Regions from separate parts of the Homo sapiens genome. Here region 1 is linked to region 2. The links come from fine-mapping of genetic effects on gene expression. A gene starts in region 2. The other region holds a variant in brackets. All regions are shown on one strand. Distances are from middle to middle.

Region 1 (5,000 bases), 55 kb before region 2:
TGGTATGAACCTGGGAGGTGGAGCTTGCAGTGAGCTGAGATCATGCCACTGCACTCCTGCTTGGGCAACAGAGCGAGACTCCGTCTAAAAAAAAAAAAAAAAAAAAAAAAAAAAAAAGTAGCCTGGAAAGTCACCTGAGGGCACCTGAGCTACTCACAGGCCCACCAGAAGGGGATGGTGAAGCAACCTGCATCCAGACTGTGGACTCTGTGGATACGGATGGGAAGGGGCTCAAGGAGACACTGACTCAAAACTGCAGTGGCTACACCTGTAATCCCAGCACTGTGGGAGGCCAAGGTGGGAGGATCACTTGAGCCCAGGAGTCTGACATCAGCCTGAGCAACAAAGGGAGACCCCATTCCTACAAAAAATAAAAAAATTAGCTGGGCATAGTAGTGCCCACCTGTGGTCCCAGCTACTCAGGAGGCTGAGGCAGGAGGATCACTCGAGCTCTGGAGAGGGAAGCTGCCGTGAGCCGTGAGTGCATCACTGTACTCCATCCTGGCCAACAGAGTGAGACCCTGTCTCAAACAAACAAACAAATCCGCAGTGCACAGAACCATCAATACCGCAATCCATTTATGCAGAAAGAGCCACAACCAGGAAAACGCTCCACACGACCCTGCAAATGTGAGTGCTAGGGAGTGTGTGCTCTCCTCACACTGTCCGGGACTGGGGTGCTCCACCCACGCTGTGCGGGACCTGGGTGCTCCACCCACGCTGTGCGGGACCGGGGTGCTCCACCCACGCTGTCCGGGACCGGGGTGCTCCACCCACGCTGTCCGGAACTGGGGTGCTCCACCCACACTGTCTGGAACTGGCACAGAATGTATCTAAGTATCACTTAAGTAATTCAGAAAAGAAAGAAAATCCCGCAACACATCTCAACACAACTTCCACGCAGCGGTGACCTGATGCAGCATGACCTCATGCAGCAGACAAGCCCCTCCCTCTGACCTCCTCCTTAGACTCCACCCCAGAGAGCAGCCGGGAGGAGAAACGGGGGTGAGTGAAGGAAGCGCCTGCAGAGCGGGCTTGGCACGACCTGAACCATCAGCACGTGTTTTGCCGCAGGCAGCAGCGAGTTTTCTTTTTGTGGCCCCTATGTTTTCCTTTTCCTATTACTTCCATTGGTTTCATCCAGAATCTGATACCAGGATCCAGGTGCAGGCGACAGTGCTGCATGTGCCTGGAAGGCCCCTGATGGCCGGAAGGACGAGGAGCACAGGGTGGCTGTTGCCAACCCTCTCCTGAGTCTAGGTGTGGCAGGCACCCTGAGGCCCATATACCCACCAGGATACTCCATATCTGCAGTGACCACATTCCCCTCTCCCTGACCTCCACCCTAAACTCCACACCCTTAAACCCAACGGTCCTCTGGGCTCCCTACTCCTATGCCCAGAACAGCACATCTGGCCTCTCAAATAGTCTCAAATGGTCTCAGTCATCAGCCCTGGGACTCATGGGGGTTCACTGCTTCATTTACCCACTTCTTGGTGCCCCCAAGTCAAGGCTGGCATCACTCCTCAAAGTCTGCACCACCTGCTCCACACCAGCCTCTGCTCCTGCCTGGTCATTTCCTCTCACACGGCCCTGTCTGTTATCTCCAGGGCTCATTCCTACCTTTAATCCACTTCTGTATCTACCTGTGTGTTGCCAGGGCCTGGACACAGGTGTACAGCTCCCGGACAGCAGCCATAGCCCAGCCAGGGTAGGGTGAAGTCTAAGTGGGTGCCTTATACGTGCCACATCTGCCCTCATTGATACAAAGGTGCCATATGGGCAGGCTTGTTTATTCCCCTCTATACTCCCTGCTTCTAGAACACTCTAGAATTGTCTGCCACATGGTAGGAGCTCAGTAAATGTTTCTTAAATAAAGGAATAACAACCGAAATTGGGCAACCTGGCCAGGCGCGGTGGCTCACGCCTGTAATGCCAGCACTTTGGGAGGCCAAGGCAAGTGGATCACGAGGTCAGGAGATTGAGACCACCCTGGTTAACACGGTGAAACCCCGTCTCTACCAAAAATACAAAAAATTAGCTGGGTATGGTGGCGGGCGCCTGTAGTCCCAGCTACTCGGGAGGCTGAGCCAGGAGAATGGCGTGAACCCGGGAGGTGGAGGTTGCAGTGAGCCGAGATCGCGCCACTGCATTCCAGCCTGGGTGACAGAGCAAGACTCTGTCTCAGAAAAAAAAAAAAAAAAAGAAAAACAGAAATTGCCACCGCGTGGAAGCTTTACTTTCGCTTTTGCTTTAATAAATCTTGCCACCGAAAAAAAAAAAATTGAAATTGTGCTCAAAGATTAACAGGTAAACCAAACATTAAATTGAGGATAAAATGACGAAACATAGGCTTTAAGGCAATGTGGAAAACCGTGTAACATTTTAAAGGGAAGCTCCTTTTTCTTTTGAGATAGGGTCTCACTCCGTTGCACAGGCTAAAGTGCAGTGGTGTGATCTCAGCTCGCTGCAGCCTCTACCTCCCAGGCTCAAGCAATGCTCCTGCTCAGCTTCCCAAGTGGCTGTGATGACTGGAACGTGCCGCATGTCCGGCTAATTTCTTTTCTATTTTTTGTAGAAATGGAGTTTCCCCATGTTGCCCAGGCTGACCTCAAACTCCTGGATTCAAGAGATCTCCTGCCTCAGCCTCCCAAAGTGCTGGGATTATAGGTGTGAGCCATCATGCCTGGCCAGGGTAGCTCTTTTCAACACTTACCGTTCAGTATCTGAAAGAGCATCAGCTTCAGGTTGAATTTCCAGCTCCAGGTGTAACCAGTCTTGGTAAGTTAACTGAGAAAGAGAGCAAGCAATTCAATACAATGAGGACAGAACACACAATCCACCGACAGGTTTATAAACCAGTTTGTCATTTCATCTCATACGCAGTCCTCCATGTCCCTGTGTTATAATGAAATTGCAGCTGAGAGTTCCACAGGAAAGAAACCTTAGTTTTATCAAGAATGATTTCTTACAGGATTTCCCTAGCACAAAGATGTTAGTACTGTAATCCTTCTTTCTAAGTATAAAA[C/G]GGCTATTTTAGTCTGGGCAACATAGTAAGACCTCATCTCATTTAAAAATTACCTGGGCACGGTGGCTCATGCCTGTAATCCCAGCACTTTGGGAGGCTGAGGCCAGCAGATTGCTTGAGCCTAGGAGTTTGACACCAGCCTAGGCAACATGGTGACACCCCGTCTCTACAAAAGATTTAAAAATCAGCCAGGTGTGGTGGCACATGTGTGTGGTCCCAGCCTCTTGGGAGGCTGAGGCAGGAGGATCTCTTGAGCCCAGGAGGTCAAGGCTGCAGTGAGTAACAGAGTGAGAACTATCTATAAAAAGGAAAAAAAAAAAAAAGAAAAAAGAAACTAACAAAACAACAACATTCTACAGCTATTCACAGTAGCATACCTTCATTTATTTTTGGAAACAGGTTCTGTTGCCCAGGCTGGAGTGTGTGCAGTGGTGCAATCGTAGCTCGCTGCAGACTCTGCCTCCTGAACTCCAGAATTCTCCCCCTCAGCCTCTCAGATGGCTGGGACTGCAGGTGCACATCACCATGACCAGCTAAGTTTTTTAAAAACATTTTTAGGAGGCCGAGCACGGTGGCTCATGCCTGTAATCCCAGCACTTTGGGAGGCCGAGGCAGGCAGATCACGAGGTCAGCAGATTGAGACCATCCTAGCTAACACGGTGAAACCCTGTTTCTACTAAAAATACGAAAAAAAAAAAAAAAAAGGGTTGGGCGTGGTGGCTCACACCTGTAATCCCAGCACTTTGGGAGGCCGAGGCGGGAGGATGATGAGGTCAGGAGATTGAGACCATCCTGGCTAACACAGTGAAACCCCATCTCTACTAAAAATACAAAAAGTTAGCTGGGCGCGGTGGCGTGCACCTGTGGTCCCAGCTACTTGGGAGGCCGAGTCAGGAGAATCCCTTGAACCCAGAAGGCTGAGGTTGCAGTGACCCAAGATTGTGCCACTGCACTCCAGCCTGGGCAACAGAGGAAGATTCCATCTCCAAAAAAAAAAATAATAATTTAAAAATAATAAAATAATTTCACAAAAGGCTTGGCACAGTGGCTCACACTTGCAATCTCAACATATTGGCAGGCCAAAGCAGAAGGATCACTTTTTCCTATTTTTAGTAGAGATGGGGCTTCATCGTGTTACCCAGGATGGTCTCAATCTCCTGACATCTCAGCCTCCCAAAGTGCTGGGATTATAGGCATGAGCCACTGTGCCCAGCCACCTTGAAATTCTTTTCTAAAGACCAAAACAACCAGGCAAACATCCTCAGAAATAAATCAGTACCAAGGCACACTGGTGAGAGCAATGCCAGCTCCAGTAACCAGGCACACATGGGTGAGCCCAGAGACCCTGAGTGACCACCACACAGCCTGGCAGACATGTTTAAAACAAGTTCCCAGGGGCCGAGCGCAGTGGCTCACACCTGTAATCCCAGCACTTTGGGAGGCCAAGGCGGGCAGATCACGAGGTCAGGAGGTCGAGACCAGCCTAACATGGTGAAACCCCATCTCTACTAAAAATACAAAACTTAGCCAGGCGTGGTGGTGCGCGCCTGTAGTCCCAGCTACTTGGGAGGCTGAGGCAGGAGAATCACTTGAACCAGAGAGGCAGAGGCTGCAGTGAGCCAAGATTGCGCCACTGTGCCCCAGAGTAAGACTCCACCAGAAAAAAAAAACAAAACAACAACAACAACAAAAAACAAGTTCTCGGGCGCAATGGCTCACGCCTGTAATTCCAGCATTTTGGGAGGCCAAGGCGTGTGGGTAATTTGAGGCCAGGAGTTTAAGACCAGCCTGGACAACATGGTGAAACCCCGTCTGTACTAAAGATACCAAAATTAGTCGGGCGTGGTGGCAGGCGCCTGTAGTCCCAGCTACTGGAGAGGCTGAGGCATGAGAATTGCTTGAACCCAGGAGGCAGAGGCTGCAGTGAGCCAAGACTGCACCACTGAGCACAGCGAGACGTTGTCTCAAAAAA
Region 2 (5,492 bases):
TTTAACAGAAACAAGTCATCACATAAGGACGTGAAGGATCAGAAAATAACTTACTGTTGTTGACCCAGAACTTACCCTATCTCCCACTCTCAAACTGGGGGGAGAAGGAGGTACCTAGAAAATTGTTCTCCCGTCTGCTCTCCTGGGCACACCACAGCCTGTCTCACTACTTCCATGAGCAAGGGGCACATCCCTGCTGTTGCTATGTCCCATGTTTTTCCAAGGGACACTCTGGGTCCTACTGCTTCTGAGTCGCAGGTTGAATCAGACGCTGTTTTTAAACACAGCATCGTAAGAAGCCCAAGAGCAAGTCACACAAACATCCCATAGAATTTGCGACTACACACACCAGTGGAAACCCATCGCCTGAGAAAATTTACATTTCTACTTAATTTAGCAAACTATGGTTACTATATAAAAACCCTTCTGCAATTCAAAATAGAGAAAATGAAGCTATAACTTACCTATAAATGAACTAGAATGATTAGCATAGGCCTCAGAACTGTCACAGTCAATCACTTTGCTGAGAGACAATTTTTTACACAGTGGACCTTCTACCTAGAATCCAAAACACAACAAACTCCATTTAAAAAATTCAAGCTCCAGGCCAGGCGTAGTGGCTCACGCCTGTAATCCCAGTACTTTGGGAGGCCGAGATGGGCAGATCACGAGGTCAAGAGTTCGAGACCAGCCTGGCCAACATAGTGAAACCCTGTCTCTACTAAAAATACAAAAATTAGGAGGGCATGGTGGCGCGTGCCTGTAGTCCCAGCCACTCGGGAGGCTGAGACGGGAGAATCACTTAAACCCGGGAGGTGGAGGCTGCAGTGAGCCGAGATCACCCCACTGCATACCAGCCCAGGCTACAGTGTGAGACTTTGTCTCAAAAAAAATAAATGAAAATAAAAAATAAAAATAAAAAAAATTCAAGATCTGTGCATAAACACAACCTGTGTGTAAGTAATGCTTCCCTACTGGGCTATTTTCCTTTTTTTCTTTTTTGAGAGGGAGTCTCACTGTCGTCCAGGCTGGAGTGCAATGGCGGGATCTCACTCACGGCGACCTCCACCTCCCAGGTTCAAGCGATTCTCCTGCCTCAGCCTCCTGAGCAGCTGGGATTACAGACACCTGCTACCATACCCGGCTAATTTTTGTATTTTAAGTAGTGACGGGGTTTCACCATGTTGGTCAGGCTGGTCTCGAACTCCTAACCTCAAGTGATCTACCCACTTCGGCCTCCCAAAGGGCTAGGATTACAGGCGTGAGCCACCACGCCCGGCTTTTTTTTTTTTTTTTTTTTTTTTTTTTTTTGTGAGACAGTCTCACTCTGTAATCCAGACTGGATTGCAAGGGGCGTGATCTCGGCTCACTGCAATTTCTGCCTCCCGGGTCCAGGTTCAAGCAATTCTCCTGCCTCAGGCTCCCGAGTAGCTGGGATTAAAGGCGTGCGCCACCACACCCAGCTAATTTTTGTATTTTCAGTAGAGACCGGGTTTCACTATGTTGGCCAGGCTGGTCTCGAACTCCTGACCCTGAGTGATCCACCCGCCTTGGCCTCCCCAAAAGCTGGGATTACAGCCCTGAGCCACGGCGCCCGGCCTGTTTTTTTGTTGTTGTTGTTTTGTTTTTAATAAAAGAGGCGGGGTCTCACCCCGTTGCCCAGGTTGGTCCAGAACTCCCGGGCTCAGGCGACCCTCCCCTCTGCGGGCCAGGCCACCGCGCCCGCCGCCTCGGGTGTTTTCTTAGGAAAGCTGTGCGGTGGCTGGACTCAAAAACCCCGAACCTAAATCTGCCCGCAGACGGACACCAGCTTCCTCTTACCTCAAGCAAAAGGGCATTCAGGTCCTGATGGCTTCGCAGGAGGCGCACAGCTGATTCCTTTAATTTCTGTGCCCTTTCAGGATTATATTTTTCCCTCTTGACCCTTCCCGCTACGGAGAGAAGTCGGTTCGAAACCATCACAGCACAATTCACACACGGGGTCCCCGGCCCGACGCGCAGGTGGACGCCGCGGAGAAACCCACCAGCGACACCCTCCCGAAGAGGGGCCGGGGCTCCTCCCCAGGGCGCAGGTCTCGGGAAACTAACGGAGACGGCCCCACCGCGGACGCCGGGGAAGACGGCCCAGGAGGGCCCGAGGCAGGGGAGCCCGGGGACGGCTGGCGAGGGGCGGCCTCTGCGCTGAGGGGAGCCCCAGGCCGCGCACCCCAGGCCCGCCTGACAGGGCGGCCGGCGGGGGCGGCGTTCGGGAAAGAAGGGAGCGCCCCGCGGGCGGCGGCTGGGGGCGTCCGCCCAGGCGCAGGAGGGGCCGGGTCCGAGGCAGCCGCGCCGCCCCAGCCGGGCGCCCACCCCGCACAGCCCCCCGGGCGCGGCGTCCGGGGATCCGACCGGCGGAGGCTCTGGCGGGAAGGGATCGGGGAACCGGCGAAACCGTCCCGGGCCGGACGCCGCCCACTCCCGCGGCCTGCCGCGCCCACCTACCCAGCAGCTCGGCCCAGGCCCTCCGGCGGCCCCCTGGGTCCTGGCCCGAGGCGGAGTTCGGGACCCACGAGTCGGACATGGCCTTGGCGCCTACAGCCCCGGCGGCGGCTCCCTGCGCCCGAGCCCGCGCTGCCTTCCTATTGGCTGCGGCCAGGCGCGCACACCCGTTGGCTGGCGGCGGCCAGGCCACGCCCCTCAGGTCGAGGCCTTGCGTCGTGGCCATGTTGGTCCTGGGGGAGGCGCCTGCGCGCGGTGAGGTAGTTTTTGCGTTTGGCTTTGCCGCCGCGGTGTAGTCCGCGGGGGCGTCTCGCGCGGGCAGACTGCCGCCCCTCAAGCGTGGTTCCTGCCGGGAATGACTGGGGTTGGTCCTGAAGAGACCACCTGGCCAACCAAGCCGAGGCAGGCTCAGAGCGCCGCGGGGAGCGCAAAGCCGCGCGCGCCTCTGAGCTCCGGGCAGCCGCTGTTCCTCCCGGCGGCCGAACGGTCCGCGCGCAGGGCGGTGTTTCGGCAGCCGGAGACCGCGCGGTAGCCGCGCCTGTATTCCCAGCGCTTTGGGAGGCCGAGGCTGGAGGGTCGCTTGAGCCCAGGAATTCCAGACTAGCCTGGGCAACAGAGCGAGACCCCATCACTTTTGTTTCTTTTCTTTTTTTTTTTTTTCCTTTTTTTGAGACGGAGTCTCCCTCTGTCGCCCAGGCTGGAGTGCAGTGGCGCGATCTCGGCTCACTGCAACGTCTGCCTCCTGGGTTCAGGTGATTCTCCTGCCTCAGCCTCCCGAGTAGCTGGGATTGCAGGTGCGCGCCACCACGCCTGGATGATTTTTGTTATTTTTAGTAGAGACAGCGTTTCGCCATGTTGGCCCAGGCTAGTCTCGAACTCCGGACCTCAGGTGATCCGCCCGCCTCGGCCTCCCAAAGTGCTGGGATTACAGGCGTGAGCCACCGCACCCGGCTGAGACCCTATCTTTTAACCAGCCTGGGCGGCAGAGCGAGACTCTGTCTCAAAACAAAACCAAACATAAGAATTCGTAAAAGCGAGTGCCTAGGCGAAGCTAATGTGCCTCAAAGTCCTGGGTAAGTAGAGGCCCTGGAGACCCGTCCGCATCCTCTGGCAGTGGCCTTGGAACCACCGAAGGGATTCAGCCGAAGGGCCGCGTTCCCGGCAGGCGTCTTTATTGTGTTGATTACGTAGATGGCGTAGATGACGTAGATGACGTTCAGCACCACAAACGAAGAGCCGAGGCACAGAGTGGGGCCTTGGATTCATGAGATGGGGATGGAGCAGAAATGAGAATTCGGAGTCCATGAAACCCCCACAAAGACTCCTGCACGGCCCGACTCGGACACTTTGCAATCTGCTGGTTGAGGGGGATGGTGTGAACTCAGGGAACAGCCTGAGATCGCGCCGCTGCACTCCAGCCTGGGCAACAGAGCAAGACCCTGTTTCAAAAACAAAAAATAACACTAAGCAATTAACAGGACTAGACTCAGAGGTGATCGAGAAATTGAAACAGGCTGGAAATTTAAATTAACTGTGATTAATATGTGGAGGTCTCTTGTACGAAAGGTGAACAATATGCATGAGGAGGAAACTCATCAAATTATAAGAAAGGAAGAACGCTGATAACAGGTAATTTTTCTGATGGGGCAGCAGTAGGATCAACACAGCTGAGAAAAATAGGAATTACCCACGTTGGAAAATAAAGAAGAAAAAAAGTTTTTTTTTAAAAAAAGCATCCAAGAACTGTGGGAAAATATCAAATGATATCATATGCATGTAATAGGACTCCCAAAAGAAGAAGAAAGAACAAATCATAAAAAATGTTTGAAGAGAAAATTACCAATAATTTTCCCAAAATAATGAAAGACCTGAGCTCAGAGCACACACAAAACTTGATAAATATGAGCCCCTGCCTGACACATGCAGTGTATTCAAACTGTGGAAATCAGAGAGAAAACCATGAAGATGGCCGGAGGAAAAAGATACGTTAAATACAGTAACAAAGGTAAGAATTCCAGCCTGGGCAATATGGCAAGACCTCGTCTCTACAAAAAATACAAAATTTTTTTTTTGTATTTTTTGTATTGCCCAGTGTGGTGACACGAGCCTGTAGTCCTGTGGGCGGAGAATTACCCAGGTGCCGAGGCAAGAGACCGAAGGCACAAACTATTTCAGTATAATAAAATCGTTACAATAAGAACAGTCATAATACAAATTATGGAGATGATCATGGACAATTATCAATTATTATAAACATTAATCATTAGCTTTTAATATTACTGTTTGTTGCATTACTAATATAACCTAGGAATAACCGGTGGGTATAGGGTCAGGTGCTGAAAGGACATTGTGAGAAGTGAGTGGAAGGCAAGAGGTGAACCTTCTGTCATGCCCGCATAAGGGCCGCTTGAGGGCTCCTTGGTCAAGCGGTAACGCCAGTGTCTGGGAAGGCACCCGTTACTTAGCAGACCATGAAAGGGAGTCTCCTTTGCTTGGAGGAGTCAGGGAACACTCTGCTCCACCAGCTTCTTGTGGGAGGCTGGATGTTATCCAGGCCTGCACGCAGTCATCCGGAGGCCTAAACCCCTCCCTGTGGTGCTTCACTGGTCACGCTCCTTGTCCACTTTCATGTTCCTCCCTTACTTCTGGTTCGTCTTTGAAGTTCGTAGTAGATAGCGGTAGAAGAAATAGTGAAAGTCTTAAAGTCTTTGATCTTTCTTATAAGTGCAGAGAAGAAAATGCTGACGTATGCTGCCTTCTTTCTCTGCTTCACCTACCTGAAAGGGAAGGGCCCCCATCCTGTAATCACGTGACATGCTTCACCTTGTCAATCACTTAGAAGATTCACCTTCCTTACGCTGCCCCCTTGTCATGTATGCAATAGATATCAAAGAGCCTAGCCGTTCGGGGCCGCTACCAGTCTCCGCGTCTTGATGGTAGTGGTCCCCGGGGCCCAGCTGTTTTCTCTTTATTTCTTGGTCTTGTGTCTTTATTTATTACAATCTCTCTTCTCC

Evidence for each region.
Region 1: its variant is fine-mapped to the expression of FANCA in testis (GTEx, PIP 0.92).

What each region holds. Positions count from the first base shown.
Region 1 is chr16:89,759,233-89,764,232 of GRCh38, forward strand. FANCA (FA complementation group A) reads right to left here. Exons shown (of 43, transcript NM_000135.4): 29 at 2,717-2,790. Among named protein-coding and RNA genes, the nearest start is that of ZNF276, 40 kb to the left of the region's middle. The variant C/G (reference allele first, on the strand shown) is at 3,029.
Region 2 is chr16:89,814,056-89,819,547 of GRCh38, forward strand. FANCA (FA complementation group A) reads right to left here and starts at 2,592. Exons shown (of 43, transcript NM_000135.4): 1 at 2,482-2,592; 2 at 1,822-1,931; 3 at 465-558. The coding sequence starts at 2,560. RefSeq lists silencers at 2,096-2,145, 2,376-2,665 and enhancers at 2,526-2,820, 3,206-3,255.